2 linked regions of the Homo sapiens genome follow. The protein of the gene in region 1 purifies or fractionates together with the protein of each later gene. This does not show direct contact. Each region holds a gene or a part of one and is shown on either strand. Other genes may lie near its edges.

Region 1 (8,316 bases):
GTGTGTTGGCGGCGGGTGGCGGGTTGGCGGGGGGGAGGCGGGGGGAGGTGGGAGGATTGCTTGAGCCTGGAAGGTTGAGTAACATGGTGAAACCCCATCTCTACTAAAAATACAAAAAATTAGCTGGGCATGGTGGTGCACACCTGTAGTCCCAGCTGCTCGGGAGGCCGAGGTGGGAGAATCACTTCAACTGCGAGGTTGCAGAGAGCTGAGATTGTGCCAGTGCACTCTAGCCTGGGTGACAGAGGGAGACTCCGTCTCAAAAAAAAAAAAAAGAGAAAGGTTTGTGGTCGCCTAGGGCTGGGGTGAGGTAGGGGATAGAATGAAATGGGGAGTGACTGCTAATAGGTACAGGGTTTCTTTTTAGGGTGATAAAAATGTTTTAAAATTCATTGACTATTGATATTTAGTAAATATACTAAAAACCATTGACTTGTACAATGTAAATTGGTGAAGGGGTGGGGGTGGATGGGGAAAAGGGAGATATTGATTCCAGAGTAGAAAGTTTCAGTTAGGTGGAATAGGCATTAGTGACCTACTGCACAGAATGGTGACTATAATAATGCACTGTATACTTCCGAATCGTTAACAGAGTAGATCTTAAATGTTTTCACCACAAAAAAGAGAAGCACGTGGACGGGGCGCAGTGGCTCGGGGCACGGTGGCTCACGCCTGTAATCCCAGCACTTTGGGAGGCGAAGGTGGGCAGATCACGAGGTCAGCAATTTGAGACTAGCCTGGCCAACATGGCGAAACCCCATTTCTACTAAAATTACAAAAATTAGCTGGGCGTGGTGGCAGGCGCCTGTAATCCCAGTAACTTGGGAGGCTGAGGCAGGAGAATCGCTTGAACCCAGGAGGCAGAGGTGGCAGTGAGCTCAGATTGTGCCACTGCACTCCAGCCTGTGCAACAACAAGACTACGTCTCAAAAAAAAAAAAGACAAATACGTGAGGTGATGGATTTGTTAATTAGCCTAGTCATTCCACATTGTAAACATGTATCTAAACATCACACTGTGACCTCATAATACAGTTATTTGTCAATTAAAAATAAACTGGTGAAATACATGGTATATGAATATCTTAATAAAGATACTATAAAACAGTAGAAAAGCACATGTGCACACACACACACACACACACAAAGAAGGAATTGTTTTGATAGAAAGTGCTATGCAGTCAGTTTTTTTTTTTTGGAGTCAGTCTTGCTCTGTGGCCCAGGCTAAAGTGCAGTGGTGCTATCTCGGCTCACTGCAACCTCTGCCTCCCAGGTTCAAGTGATTCTCCTGCCTCAGCCTTCCGAGTAGCTGGGATTACAGGCACACGCCACCATGCCCAGCTAATTTTTGAATTTTTAGTAGAAACGGGGTTTCACCACGTTGGTCAACCTGGTCTCAAACTCCTGACCACAGGCGGTCTGCCCGCCTCAGCCTCCCAAAGTGTTGGGATTATAGGCCGAAGCCACTGTGCCTGCCTGCAGTAAATTTAGATAGATGATGCTAGACATGAAATAAAGAGTTGATGAAAAGCCCCACAGAGTTTGGAGCATTATTTTTGGCCCAATTTTACAGGTGAGGAAACTGAACTCCACATAAACTTTTTTTTTTTTTTTTTTTTAGATGGAGTCTCACTCTATCGCCCAGGTTGGAGTGCAGTGGCAAGATCTCAGCTCACTACAACCTCCGCCCTCCGGGTTCAAGCTATTCTTCTGCCTCAAACTCCCAAGTAGCTGGGACTACAGGTGCGAGCCACCACGCCTGGCTAATTTTTTTTTTTTTTTTTTTTTTTTTGAGATGGAGTCTCGCTCTGTTGCCCAGGCTGGAGTGCAGTGGCGCGATCTCTGCTCACTACAAGCTCCGCCTTCCGGGTTCACGCCATTCTCCTGCCTCAGCCTCCTGAGTAGCTGGGACTACAGGCGCCTGCCACCACGCCCGGCTAATTTTTTGTATTTTTAGTAGAGACGGGGTTTCACCATGTTAGCCAGGATGGTCTCGATCTCCTGACCTTGTGATCCGCCTGCCTCAGCCTCCCAAAATGCTGGGATTACAGGCATGAGGCACCACGCCCAGCCTAATTTTTGTATTTTTAATAGAGATGGGATTTCACCATATTGGCCAGGCTGGCCTCCAACTCCTGACCTCGTGATCCGCCCGCCTCGGCCTCCCAGAGTGCTAGGATTACAGGCATGAACCACCGTGCCCGGCCAAACTTTCTTTTTTCTTTTTTTGAGACAGGGTCTCGCTCTGTCACCCACACTGGAGTGCAGTGGCGCGATCACAGCTTACTGTAGCCTCCACCTCTCTGGATTCAGGTAATTCTCCCACCTCAGCCCCCTGAGTAGCTGGGACTACAGGCGCTCACCACCACGCCCCGCTAATTTTTAAAATTTTTTCGTAGAGACAGGGTCTCCCTATGTTGCTCAGGCTGGTCTGAAACAGCTGGGCTCAAGTGAGCTTCCCACCTCAGCCTCCCAAGGTGCTGGGATCACAGGCGTGAGCCACCATGTCTGGCAGAAACTTCAGACCATATAGCTAGTACACGATGAAAGCCAGATTCCAATCCAGGAAGTTAATCGCCAAGCTGGGGCCCTGACTGCGACACTACTCTGCCTCCTGGGAAATGTGTCTCTAAGATAAAGGCAGGGTGGAGAACATCTATTGCTGAGAATCTCTCCCCGAGATTGCTCTCTCTTCCTAGTGCCAACTCCTCAGTGCTCATCGGAGAGCCCTCATCATTTGGGTGCCTACCATCTGTTTAATAGACATCGTGGAAGTCTTGGTTTCTGCAATTTCTAGAGTGAAATTCAGGACAAAGCAATCTCTTTGCAAATATTCGGCATGCAGCTTCTCTTCTTCAGGGAAGTGATGAAGTGATGTGTCTGCCAACGTGTATAGTTAGTTGAAAATGATCAGACAGAAGGCTTTGTGACACAGCCCCTGATGTCAGAGCAACCTCTGAAAACTCATAATAACATCGATGGCATAAGCTCTTTTTGGAATGTTCAGGACCACAACTGAGGACAATACTAATTCTTCAGGATGAGTTTAATATAGCAGATTTCTATATCTCACGACATTTCTGTGTTTTAACCTAAGTGTAGGTTTTGCTTGTCTACTGTCTTTTTATCAAATGAATACAGAGATCTAAATCTTTGTATAATAGCTTGATCTATTTCTGTGAGCTAGATTTCCAGATGTGGAATAATCCCGAGTCAAAGGATATGAACATTTTTAAGGCTCTTGATCTGCATTGCCAAATTGCTTTGCAAAAAAGATTGAACCAATTTACACTCCCACCAGCAATGTATGAGAATATATTTAAATGCAAATCCCAAGCTGCAGAGCATCTCTTTCTTAGGTATTTCAACTTAAAAAATTTTTTTTCGTGCTAAGCAAAAGCTGACCCAGGATGTTAAAAAAAGAAAGTCTGATATAAAAATGGAGCAGATAGTTAAAACAGCTTCTTAGGCAGAAATAAGCTTTAGAAAGTCCCAAGCAGGATGATAACAATTTTAAGGCATCATAGCACGAAGCACAATTCTAAAGGGACCATTAACAATTTGGCTGAGATTGGAAAAGTAACCGCCAAGAATGTTGGGCGTGGTCAATGTCCCAAATTCTAGATTCGAAAAGGCAGGGTGTTTCACTCATTTACACTTCACTTTGGCCTAAGGACGATTTAAGATACCCAAAGGCAGGATCTTGATAAGTAGTATTGTTTGAATCATTAATCCCGTGAAAATGAAAGAAACCCACGCCCCCTGAACTAAGGTCAGCGTTTATCTCTTCTTTCCAGGCGTTCCATCAGGACGCCTCGCCTCTAATCTCAGTTTGGTTTGCCACAACCACTGCCTCCACCCCTAATAATGGGGCCCCATGATTTTAGGGAAGACGGGGGTGGGCAGGCAAGAGGAAGCCCAGATTCGGGGTACCAACCCACGGAGCGCCATACAAATTCAAAGGGCGCTGGGACCTCAACGTTCGGCCAGGACACTCTCCCCCGAGCCCCCGTTATTTGGGAAACCGCCCCGTCCCCGCCTGCGAGTCTTCCACGACTACTTCTCGGTTCCCCCGTGCGACCCGCTTCCACCAGCAAGAAGGAGCCGACGGCCGAGGAGCCAGGAACTCGATTTCGCCCCTTCCCACTCCTCTTTTCTCACTTTTGTTCGGCTTTTTCCTGCTTTCCCTCCCTTCTTCCCTCTCCTTTCTTCTTCCCGTCCTCCCTCTCTCCTCCTCCCCTCGCCTCCAGTCCTCCCCCCGCCTGCAGTCCTCCCCCCACCTAGCCCCCTGCGTCCCCTCCCCCGCCTCACCCTCGCCCCGCTCCGCTCGCAGCCCCGCCCGCAGCCAATCAGAGCGCGGCCTCCGGTGGCCCCGCCCTTCTCCGGCGATTCCGGGCGGGCCGGGCCGAGCCCAGGCCGTGGGTGCGGAGGGCGGCGCCGCGGGCCGGGGGCCGATGGGTCCTGGCGGACGCGAGGCGCCGGCGCGGGGCTCGCCTGGACTCGGGTGTGCGGGGCTGTGAGGGGGCGAGGCGGGCGCTGCGGCCCGCCCGGGATGGGCCAGCCCTGGCCTGGCGGGGCTGAGCCGAAGGCGAGGGCGGCGCGCGGGCCAGGCCTGCCGGGCGGGCGGCCCGGGGGTTGAGGTAGAAGTGGGCGCGGAGGAAGGGGCCGAGCCAAGGCGGTGGGTGGAGCGGCGAGGGGGGCGGAGGCTGGGCCGCGGCGGGCGAGCGGAGCGGCGCGCCTGTCCGGAGCTCGGCGGTGGCGCCGGAGGAGGCTGCAGCGGCGGCGGCGGCGGGCCCGGACGAGCGTCCGGAGGTGGCGGACGAGGCGCCGGGGGCCCCCATGGGCGGGTGTGTGGGCGCCCAGCACGACTCCTCGGGCAGCCTCAACGAGAACTCGGAGGGCACCGGAGGTAGGTGAGCGCCAGGGGGCAGCCTCGGCCCCCCATTGTTCCCGGCCAGGCCCGGCCACCTGTCCCGACCCCCGCGGGCCGCGCCGGGCCCCCGCGCCCCTTTGTCATCCCCTCTTCCACGTCATTCCCCGCGCTCCGCTTCCGGCTGTCCTGCCAGCCGCGGGGGTCGCCCCTTCCCGCCCCAGCCCTGAAGAAAAGTCCTCTGAGCGCCGGGGACGTAGCCCTTGGCCTCGCCGACCGCCCCGCTCGGCTCGGGGAAGTCGGACCCGAAGCTGCCCTTCTGGCCACCTCACTCCCTCTCCAGGCCGTTTAATTATTGAGGATCAGGATGGCGGCGCCGGGGTTGCAGAAAAGCGAATTGATGGCGGGGGGAGGGAGCTTGATGCGTTCCCTCCGACGGGCCCCGCCACATCTTTCCGCACCCTTCCTTGTTCTGTGGAGTTGGCTGGTCTCAGCTTTCCTGAGTTTCAGATGACAGCTGCCCCGGTTGGTTCCAGATTGGCCATTTAAACCTGCGAGTTTCTGGAGCTCGGCTGGAGGAGTCTCCAGTGGCCGCAGGCATTGTATTAAGGAGGGGTGGGGAAACGGTCTTCCCGGGTAAAACGTGGCTCCTAGCTAGAGCTTGGGGGTGTTAGGCCGGTGTGCTGTCGGGGTGGGCTAATCACATTCCCATCTGTCTTACGTAGAAGGAAAATATGTAGGATAAAAGTACAAGTGCAGTTGGACCCTGACTTACCCCACCCAGTAAGATCAGTACTTTAAAAGTTTTCTAACACGGGAACGCACTCCTACTTTATAGTAAAAGCGTGCTGAGGATAGGTATTTTAATTCAATCAGTAGTAGTTGTAGTATGGCAGTATAATAATAAAATTAGTTCTATCTTTATTTAAGTGACCTTTGGTTACGTCCATTCTGTAGAATATTTTAGTGATAAACAGCCTTTAGGCAAAGATGACAGCGTTGGTTTGATTTGTGACCTAATGTTAGCTGCCTTAAAATGTGCATGTCTGTAAATTTTTAAATTGTTTGGGTATGGGAGGGTTTACAACTTTTTCGTAGCATACTAACATTTAGACCAGTTGCTTGCCCTGTCACTTAAGCTCTCTTCACAAACCATGTACACCTAAGTTTTTTGGCTAATGGATTTCCTGAATTCCATGATGGTTAGCCATGCCACTTTATTAAAATCTGTGGGTATCCTGTATGACTAAATCCTGGGTAAATAACTTGAGAACTCAGTGGAAGTTGTCTTGAAAAAGTCCATGAAAATGCTACTTTATAGTGTATTTTATGTCGTAGCATTATTACTGGCATATTGAGATCCTCAGTGACAACAAAGCAGGAAGATAAAAAGGGCACGATTTAAAACAGCCTTGGGTTAAGGTGAAATTGAAGGATCAAAATGAATCTTCCTCTAATTGTGTTGATCATTAATGATTCTGAAATATATTAGTATTTGTTATCGCTAGTGTTTAGTTTTAATTAAATTTTTTTCACACTCATTTTAATATTGTCATAAGCATTTTGCTCTTCTCCGTAATGTATGTGGATTAATTTATTTAAGCCTTTTGGTAGTGTGACTTATGACCAGACAGGCATTATTAATATGGGCTTTAAAAAGCGTGAAATCTTAGCTTTGGGTAATTTATTACCGGTGGTATCCAGTTAGATAGCTATAGTATCAGTTTCTTTGAGGACTGAGTTCTCTGGACCGTAAGCTCTGCTGTACATGAAGTTTAGAAAAAGGAACATTAACCACCAAACGTCTTTATTTTCTTTTGGAGAGAGGACATGGGCCCTGATGTAACTGGGGTCAGGGAAGAGGCTCTTGTACTAAAAGGATTATTTCTGGAATTTGATTATGGACGCTTTTATTCTCCATTATTGTCATGATAATTAAGAGTTAATTGTGGTTTAGTGAAATTAACTCAGGTGTGTTGCAGGTTAACATATAAAAAAAATTATTGCTTAATAAGTAGATTGTTGGGAAGGGAAAGACTTTTTCCTAAGGGTGTTGGCACAGATCCCTAGCTTTTCAAACATACTGTGGTAGTGAGTTAGGTTTGGGGGATGTGTGGAGGGCTTGGTTTGGTTTCTCGAGACAGGTTCTTGCTTTATCGCCCAAGCTGGAGTGCAGTGCCAGATCACAGCTCACTGCAGCCTTGACCTCCCAGGTACAAGTGATCCTTCTACCTCAGCCTCCCAAGTAACTGGGACCACGAGGTGCATGCCACCGCACCCGGCTAATTTTTAAAAAATTTTTAGTAGAGGTGGGTTTTGCCGTGTTTTTAATCTGAATGTGTTGGGTTATGAAAGTTGTTTTATCAACATGGAGTCTTCACATGCTTCTTACAACGGATTTAAACTTTCCATGACAGATTTAATTACATTCACCAACCAGGCGGGGTGGCTCATGCCTGTAATCCCAGCACTTTGGGATGATGAGGCGAGAGGATTGCTTGAGCCCCAGGAGTTGGAGACCAGCCCAGGCAACATAGTGAGACTCTGTCTTTAAAAAAATAAACAAAATAATTACATTCACAGTGTTGTGCAAACATCACCATTTTAGAATAGCTTGACCCTTTCTAAATATCAGCCAGCCTTAGTAAGAAAAAGATTTTAAAAAAATCTTTTGACCATTTGAAATACTATACTTTCCTTTTTCCCTCTGAATCCATCTCTTATGTATGCAAGTAATTATGTGTATATCAATAAAACCTTCCTTATTAGGTGTATTCTTTGAAGGAATTTGGGAGATTTTTATAAGAGACTGTAGAATATGGAAGTGGCTTAATTCACATTATAAGCTTTGCATTATCTATTGTTTTGGGATTAATTGTTGTATTTTCCTTTGGCATATACCTTGCCTAGAATTTAGTTCTTGAGCTCCAGCTACTTAGGCTTTTTTCAAATAAAAAAACTTTTATTTTTATATTTTGTTATTGAGATAGTATCTTGCTCTGTCACCCAGGCTGAAGTACTGTGGCATGATCATAGATTACTGCAGCCTTGAACTCTTGGGCTCAGGCAGTCCTCTGGCCTCAGCCACATGAGTAGTTAGGCTGGTTTTTTTTTTTTTTTTTTTTGAGATGGAGTCTTGCTCTGTCGCCCAGGCTGCGGTACAGTGGCACGATCTCTGCTCACTGCAGCCTCTGCCTCCCAGGTTCAAGAGATTCTCCTACCTTAGCCTCCAGAGTAGCTGGGATTACGGGTGCCCACCACCATGCCCAGCTAATTTGTTGGTATTTTTAGTAGAGACGGGGTTTCACCAGGTTGGCCTGGCTGGTCTTGAACTCCTGACCTTTAAGTAATCCGCCCACCTGTGCTTCCCAAAGTGTTGGGATTACAGGTGTGAGCGACTGTGCCCAGCCTTTTTTTTTTAATGCCTACTTTTAATCAAGACAGGTA
Region 2 (8,598 bases), on another chromosome or scaffold:
GAACACATAGACACAGGAAGGGGAACATCACACACCGGGGACTGTTGTGGGGTGGGGGAAGGGGGGAGGGATAGTATTAGGAGGTATACCTAATGCTAAATGACAAGTTAATGGGTACAGCACACCAACATGGCACATGTATACATATGTAACAAACCTGCATGTTATGCACATGTACCCTAAAACTTAAAGTATAATAACAATTTAAAAAAAAAAAAGAGCTAATGACAATCCCACCACCCTTTGCTGACTCTCTTTTCGGACTCAGCCCGCCTGCACCCAGGTGAAATAAACAGCCCTGTTGCTCACACAAAGCCTGTTTGTTGGACTCTCTTCACACGGAAGCGCGTGACATTTCTTGTATAATTTTTATACCAAATAAACCAAATTATGTCATTTTTGGACTTTAGGGAATCTGATATCGTAAAAGATTAATTAGGTCAGAAAAAGACATAATTTATAATTTGATTTTGGAATGTTTGTCAAATATCAAAAGTTTAAAACACCTGAAATCACAGTTCATTGTAAAATAAGTCATTCGTTTTACCAAAGTCAATTCTGGAACTGAGGTCTTTTCATTTCCATTTCAGGGAACAATACACTGTTTTACTCCAAAATATAAAGCTGTAATTTAAGGCATTTGTACTAACTTTTAGGTTAGAATATGTGTATCTTTCATTTTTTAAACATTTTTAATCCTTCATTATTTTCAATAGATTTCATTTTTAGAGTCCCTCATCATTTTTAAGTAACAAATTCTTACCAATAGACTATATATAAATTTTAGTAATAACTTTATTATACAAGCCCAACATGATCTTAGTATTAATTCTGCCCCTCTCTGATGTTCTTTCTTCATTTAAAACACTAAGACATTGGCCAGGCACAGTGGCTCATGCCTGTAATCCCAGCACTTTGGGAAGCTGAGGTGGGTGGATAACTGAAGGTCAGGAGTTCGAGCCTGGCCAACATGGTGAAACCCGGTCTCTACTAAAAAAAAAAAATACAAAAATAGGCCAGGCATGGTGGCTCGTGACTGTAATCCCAGCAGCTCAGGAGGCTGAGGCAGGAGAATAGCTTGAACCTTGGAGGCAGATGTTGGAGTGAGCCGAGATCATGCCACTGCACTCCAGCTTGGGTGACAGAATGAGACTTCTTCTCAAAAATAAATAAATAAATAAATAAGACATTAACATCTTCCTATGTCTTGCAGTTATCTTGAATATTCAATGAGAAAATAAATATAGCATGATTTACTATACAATAAATGTATTACACTAATGGTTTAAAATTTTTAAAGTACTTGATGTCATTTACAGAGAAAACATGTGTATGACTAGATTTGTTTTGGTAAAAATAATATTACAGCAAAGAAAATATATTTTTAGAATTAAGATGAATCCAGGAATATTCCCCAAAAAGATTTTGAAAGGGGAACTGAATTTATGTGGTTACATGGTTGAGGTTATCAATCTAGCAAAATTCTGATTAAAGGGCAATTGTATCTTTGTTTACATTCACAGTCTGGGGACATCCCGGTTATACTACAAAGACCAATTTGGCATTTACTATAGAAAAATAGACCTTCTGCTTAAAACTATTGGGAAATTTTCCCATGACTCTCAGTGGAAAGCAAAGCTACTTTTCTCAAGAAATTACCATGATTATATTTTATGGACATCGTAAATGTTTTACCTGATTTCTTTCTTTTTCAACTTTGGCTACTTGGAATCTCAGGGCAAATTTGTTGTCAACTTCCAGAAAGTTTACAGACCTATGTGATGTGGGTTTCTTGAAGCATCCATGCTGCACAAGTTAGAGATATTAACTTTTCTTCAGTCTACAAGTTCTATTGTTAATTACATTTCATCATGCTAGACTTCAATCCAAGAGAACATATTTTCTCTCAGAGCTCAATGGCATTATTGATATCCTACACAACAATATTTCCACAGAAATTTTCAAGGTAATCTGTAAGTTCTAAAGCATGATAAGTATTTCAGGTGGCATTATCCCAGAAACAATATCACTTCCTTCTGGATAATCAAGAAGAAGCACATACTTTTCATAGGTCCAAAGAAACTATGATGATTGCTATATTTCAGTGGAAATGAGTATAATACAACAGGAAATCAGACTTCAAATATGTTGCTGCATGACTGAATTTAATTCTGCTAATCTACCTCTATTAAGAAAATATTTTCCATCTGTCACGTAAATCTCTGCACTAACAATAATTTTTCTCTACTGTCACTTTTTTAATTTCCTGTGGCCAGAGACATTAGCTCTTTTATATATTGTTCTAGTAAGTATTGAGTCAGGATCTTCTAAAGCCATAAGTTAATTAAAGATTAATTTGAGTGACTGTTCCTGTTTCTTAACAGATGTGTGCTTCCATTTATTTGTGTTCCTCAGATTCTTTCTGGTCACAAACCACTCAGAAATTGTCTTTCGGTTTTGCCAGCGTTCATCCTAAATCCCTCAGAGCCAATGATCCATTACAATGTAGATCCCACTTTGACTTCAGACATTTGGCTGGTGAATATGTTGGCATCAAAACAAGAAAGAAGAGATATTCAGCTTTTGACAAACTGAATTATCATCAAAGAAAGAAGTGGAAATTTCTATGTTAATTAGGAATAGAACCATCTTCACTGATGTTGGGGCATGTAATCATTCAGCAACATATTAAGGGCTAAGATTAGCAAACCAGGAGTATATTGTATTACACTTAATTAAGTCATCAGAATTTTTTAAAGGCAGTGAAACTCCAACAAAGTAAATGAAATTAAGAAGAGTCATTCAAAACTAACATCAACTCTGGAAGTGCAGCTTCTTTATTGCTATCCCACCTCACAAAGGATTTTTAAAACACTAAGCACTTAGATATGCTGTAAATTCAGCAACTTGCACTATGTCTTGTACCCAGCAGATATTCAATAAATGTAGGAGGGAGGGAGGGAAGGAAGGAAGGAGGGCAGGAGGGAAGGAGGGAAGGAGAGAGGGGAGGGAGGGGAGGGAGGGGAGGGGAGGGGAGAAAGGAAGGTTGGTTGTAAACTTCATGACCTAAAAATTATAAATATACACATTTTTCAAATGAAGAAATTGAAACACAATGAGATAAAATAGCTTGTCTCATATAACCCAGCAAAGAATTGTTGGTATTTGGCTTTGAAGTAGAATTACCTGACTATTAAGTTCACTTGATTCATCTCTACAGTGTACTGTAACATAAAGTTAGTTAAGTGTATGGTGATTATTAAGATTTGGGGAGCAACATGGAATGCTGGTTAAAAACTCACTCAGGCCCCTGTAGGGAGACTTAGGTCTTCACTCAGTGGGAAGACTTAGGTCAAGCCCCACTTAGCTAGTTAGCATCTATGTCATCTATGTGTACAACAGAGATAACAATAGAACTCATTTTATCCTGCCACGTGGAATATGCTAAAGGTTTAATAAGTAATAGCTGTTATTATTAAATAATAATGTGTCAAAACTACAGATTATAGGATCATCTAGCTTAGGAAAAATTATGCTCAAAGCCTAGATTTATCAAAAAAACAAGGCTGTAATTTTCCATTAGACATCCACTTCAAAGTCAAGATATCCGTATAATTTTGCCATAATCAAAAATTTTGCTTGTCATTATATTTTTATTTAATTAAATGTCTCAAGTTAATAATGGCAAGGACCACATGATTTTTAAAACACAGTTGTTCTCATTTAGTTCTTCACTGGCAAAAGGAACTTCCTAAAAAATGCATATATAAGGTCTTGTAAATAGTCTACTAACTTAAGATAATCACAAAGAAATGAAATATAGTTAAGACTGAGAAACTGCATGAACCTTCTGACTATTATCCCTCTTCCACCACTAGATTTTTCTTTCCTGCTTTTTTGAAACTTAGATCCAAATCTTAATAGCAGCACTCATTTTCATCATCCTTCAGAAACATCTACTCAATGAAGACAACTGTGAAAAACCATACATAGGATAAGATATATACAAACTTTCAAGCACAAAACAATAATACAATTTCATTATTTCAACCAAAAAATAGAAACATGAAACCCACAACATATAGCAAAGTGATCAAAACAGTCAAGTGAAATTTTAGATATTCTTTACATTACTGGCCATGCATCGTACCTGCGTGCATGTGTGTGTGTGTGGTATTTAGCAATATTTATTTAATTAGGCACTTTTAATTTTAATTATCATTTTTGTTCCCCTAGGTTCTCCTGATCATGTTAGAATTCAGTTTAAAAATATTTGTATTTCGCACATATGGAGGCCTTTGAAATAAAATAGAAAATATGATGAGACTAGCAAATAACAAAAGATGGCCCATTAAATCACTTGGAACAGAAAAAACTCGTGCCAGCTTTTCCTTTGAAATAAAGAGGAAATGGTGCACCACAGGCCCCAGATTGTTTTTCTGAGGTGATAGGATATTATGATTTGTTGTATCTGTTTCCTCAGGAAACAGCAAATGTTGAACAGGTCAATGCTTTTCAGGAATGAAAAAAAATCCAGAAAAAGACTGCCAAATTGGCAAGAACAACTTTCCTATCTTTGAAGAGCATCAACTCGGAAGTTATTTTATTTCCGAATAGCCTTTCTCTTATTGCCAACAGAAATCCATTACAATATATAAGAGCTAAGATTTCTTGTCCCTTTTCACCTTTATTTGCCGTCTTTCAACTGGCAAGAGTCATTTTGACCAGCAGATTAATCAACTGTAAGACAGATCCTCACACAAAGGTAGGTACTTGGAAATATAAACTGAATATTTTTACTTTGAATATTGAAATTTTTCTCAAAGATAACATTTTCAACGATAACATTTTATGGGCTTTTCATAGAACATTCATTATCAGCAAAAACATAAGTAGCTTACATGAAATTGTAAGTCATTAAATGCAATAAATTTTGAAAAATTCTGGTTTTTACAGGTCAGAGTAAAACATTCATGTTGGGCATTTGGGCCAATCGGTCCATCCAAGTACACAATTGACTTTTCCTCCTGATGTACCTTAAAGTTCTTGAAACTTCATAAGGATAGAATAGTCTCAGGTGTACTCTAAAAGACAGAATTGCTCTACAGAATATTTTTATTATTGGTTTTTCTTTTGTTTTTCAAACTTAATTTAAGAATGGATATAGGAAAAGTACTAGTTAAAGGAATAGCCACACCCACATATATATAATTGAATATCCAGTGAAATTTTGTCCATAGGATTCTTTCAAGACTTGCATTGCTCAGACCACACACTCAACCTATGTGCAGAGTTGACTAACAGGAAGCCAATTTGCACCATGGTGTATGGAGTTGCTTTCCCAAAAATCAAGCTATCATGTACTTGAAATATATTGTAAAATTTGACCCAATTGAGAGTAGAATACCTGGACATCTCCATGTTCTTGCCTTGGTCTCTGATATATGGATTTTTGGAAGCACTTTGAGACCACTCATCACAGCCTAAATTAATGTAATAGAATGTTGTTAAAACTAGGAAATATATTATGTGACTCTTCTTTTAGACTATATCCAACAGGGTGATTCCTTTTTTTTTTCCTTATTTTTAAGCTCTTCCAAGCAATAAAATTTGTAACATAAGATCTAGTTAAAATGTTAATATCTCAAACCCATCCATAGAAATCTATAATGTATCTACTATTTTTAAAATATCAAAATGTTCAAATGAAAATAAGTATACATTTTAAAGTAGTTACTTCTAAGGGAAAAACCTTAGTCATAAAAGCTTCTATTGCTCAGAGCAATGTATGAACAACTCTTTGGCATTATCCCCAGGATCAGTTTACAAGTCAAAAATAAAAACTACTTCCACTATTTTGAAGTCAAATTTTATAAGCCTACTAATATTGCCCCACAGTAATACTGAATTCAAAATAACATTAGGCAAATTCCCTAAAAATGCTATAGTAGGATATTTGTATTACATTATATCCAAGTGTTGAGACATTTTAAATAGTACTTTTTAATAAAAAACAATCATACTGATCACCTATTGTGCTTACTTTCAGAGGCAACTGAAAGGATGAAATCACTGACTTGGATCTTGGGCCTTTGGGCTCTTGCAGCGTGTTTCACAGTAAGTATCATTAATCACGATCACACTTCTTTATAGTTTCTCATTAACCATTACTTCAGATTTCTTTTTACATTAATGATGTTACCTTTTCTTATATATTAGTAACTATTAATCATCAATGAAACACTGTTTAGGGCTTAAATTTAAATTTAAAATCTAATTTAAATAACCACACATGTCTGATGGCTGCCATACTGGACAGCTCAAGTCTGTGGTATCAGACTGCATTAAACAGATACGTATAAATGTTAAGTTCCCATACTCTAGTCAGTTACACAGTAGGTAAAACTCTATAAAAATAGATAATCAAAATAAAACCGTTTTCCCAGCATGTAGTTTATGGATCATTTACACCAGAGTCACCTAACTCACTTATTAAAAATATAGTAAAGACCTCATCCAAGCTTCAATAAGAGTATCAGATAATGGGACCTGGAAAGATGCATTTTACTAAGGATCTACAAGTATCTTTGCATGCTAAATTTTGGGAGAATGCTAAGCATTTATATATAAACAGCTACTTTGTATACAAAACCAGGTTAAAGACAAATGAGATACTAAATATCATACAAAATTACAAAAATGTTTTTAAAACACACGTATTTCAAAGTAGTAGAATCATACTCGATTTCAAAGTAGTGTTAGATTAATTCCAGTGACAGAAAGAGAATATTAATTCCAGAGTAATTTCCACCAAAGTACTATAAAATCTATATCAAATTGAAAAATATGAAAGCTGTTTTTTTTAGATTATGACTTCCACAAATCAAGCAACATAAATTTACATCATTCTGAAACATGAAACATAAAATAATTCCTTTTTCATCTACTTTGTTTTTTTTTTTTTTTTTTTTTTTGAAACAGACTCTCGCTCTGTCGCCCAGGCTGGAGTACAGTGGCGCGATCTCGGCTCACTGCAAGCTCCGCCTCCCGGGTTCGCGCCATTCTCCTGCCTCAGCCTCCGGTGTAGCTGGGACTACAGGCGCCCGCCACCACGGCCGGCTAATTTTTTTGTATTTTTAGTAGAGACGGGGTTTCACCGTGTTAGCCAGGATGGTCTCGATCTCCTGACCTCGTGATCCGCCAGCCTCGGCCTCCCAAAGTGCTGGGATTACAGGCGTGAGCCACCGTGCCCGGCCTCATCTACTTTCAAAAAGGAACAAAATCAGGAAATTCTAAGGTTACTGAGGTAGTCTGACCTTGGCTAAATTACTGAGAGCATTATATGTTGACATAATTTTTAATAAACCAATAAAATATATTGATATATTTTAAAGGTAATATCTTAATGGCTTGATTATAAAGCTTATTTTCAATATTTTTATTCCCTCAGAATACAAAAGAAAAACATTTATAATTTCAAAGTATCAGGCTTTTATTATATAAATTTTTTTTTATAAGATTAATTTGAAAAAGATAACTTTCTGGGCCAGGCACGGTGGCTCACGCCTGCAATCCCAGAACTTTGGGAGGCTGAGGCAGGTGGTAACTTGAGGTTAGGGGTTCAAGGCCAGCTTGGCCAACATGGTGAAACGCTGTCTCTACCAAAATTACAAAAATTAGCTAGGCATGATGGCATGCACCTGTAATTCCAGCTACTCCAGAGGCTGAGGCAGGAGAATCGCTTGAACCCGGGAGGTGGACATTGCAGCGAGCCAAGATTGTGCCACTGCACTCCAGCCTGGGTGACAGAGTGAGACTCTATCTCAAAAAAAAAAAAAAAGAAAAAAGAAAAAGATAGTTTTCTGATAACATAAGCAGTTTAAATGGAAATCAACCTTTCCCCAACTTAATTATATGAGATTCATGATGATTAATAATTATTGAATGTTGGAAATATGAAGGGTAGCATGTCCTTTACGTGTGTGTGTATATGTACACACACACACACACAAATAAAGCAAGTCTAACTACTATTAGTCCCATTAAAATACAAATAAATTTAGGTTCAAAGTATCCGTGTCTTAGATGGACTGTTCCTAAATAAAGTAATGTAGGAGATTAGTGCCAATTATAGTCCTTCGAGAGCGTAGTGTTTCTTCTTAAAATAGTATTTTCATCATTTTTCTGAGTTCGTTACCTTTAGCCAGTTGCGGAAAGGGAGCTAATCAATGTGATTGGGTATACTTACTATGAAGATTTTTCATTACTTAATATTAAGATCAACATCAGGATATCTTTAGGAGGCGAGGGCACTTTCAGCTAATTTTTTAATTGTTTCAACAATAAAAGTGAATGGAGTATTTTCCCACACTAAGGATTTGTTTTCTTGACAATTAAAAATCAAGTCCTGAACTTCCATACATCCTGACTAGTCTTTGGCTTGGCAGCACTTGGGTCAAATGCCCTCCATAATACCACAGAATGTCATTAGCTAGAGAAGACAAACATGAGGCCAGTTCTACAGAAGTGCCTTGGTATTTTTCATTTGTTGTATTAGTGATCCTAATAAAACTTTTACTGGCATGTTAAAGGCAGAAG

Evidence for each region.
Region 2: the proteins of UBTD2 (region 1) and SMR3B purify together in Homo sapiens (affinity purification with mass spectrometry; 3 studies listed by BioGRID and IntAct, with this or other methods). This does not show direct contact.

The regions. Positions count from the first base shown.
Region 1 is NC_000005.10:172,280,188-172,288,503, reverse strand, and holds the start of UBTD2 (ubiquitin domain-containing protein 2), read left to right. Parts: upstream 1-4,739; 5' UTR 4,740-4,838; coding exon 4,839-4,908; exon of another isoform or gene 4,909-4,912; intron 4,913-8,316.
Region 2 is NC_000004.12:70,378,448-70,387,045, forward strand, and holds the start of SMR3B (submaxillary gland androgen-regulated protein 3B precursor), read left to right. Parts: upstream 1-4,683; 5' UTR 4,684-4,765; intron 4,766-6,049; 5' UTR 6,050-6,063; coding exon 6,064-6,117; intron 6,118-8,598.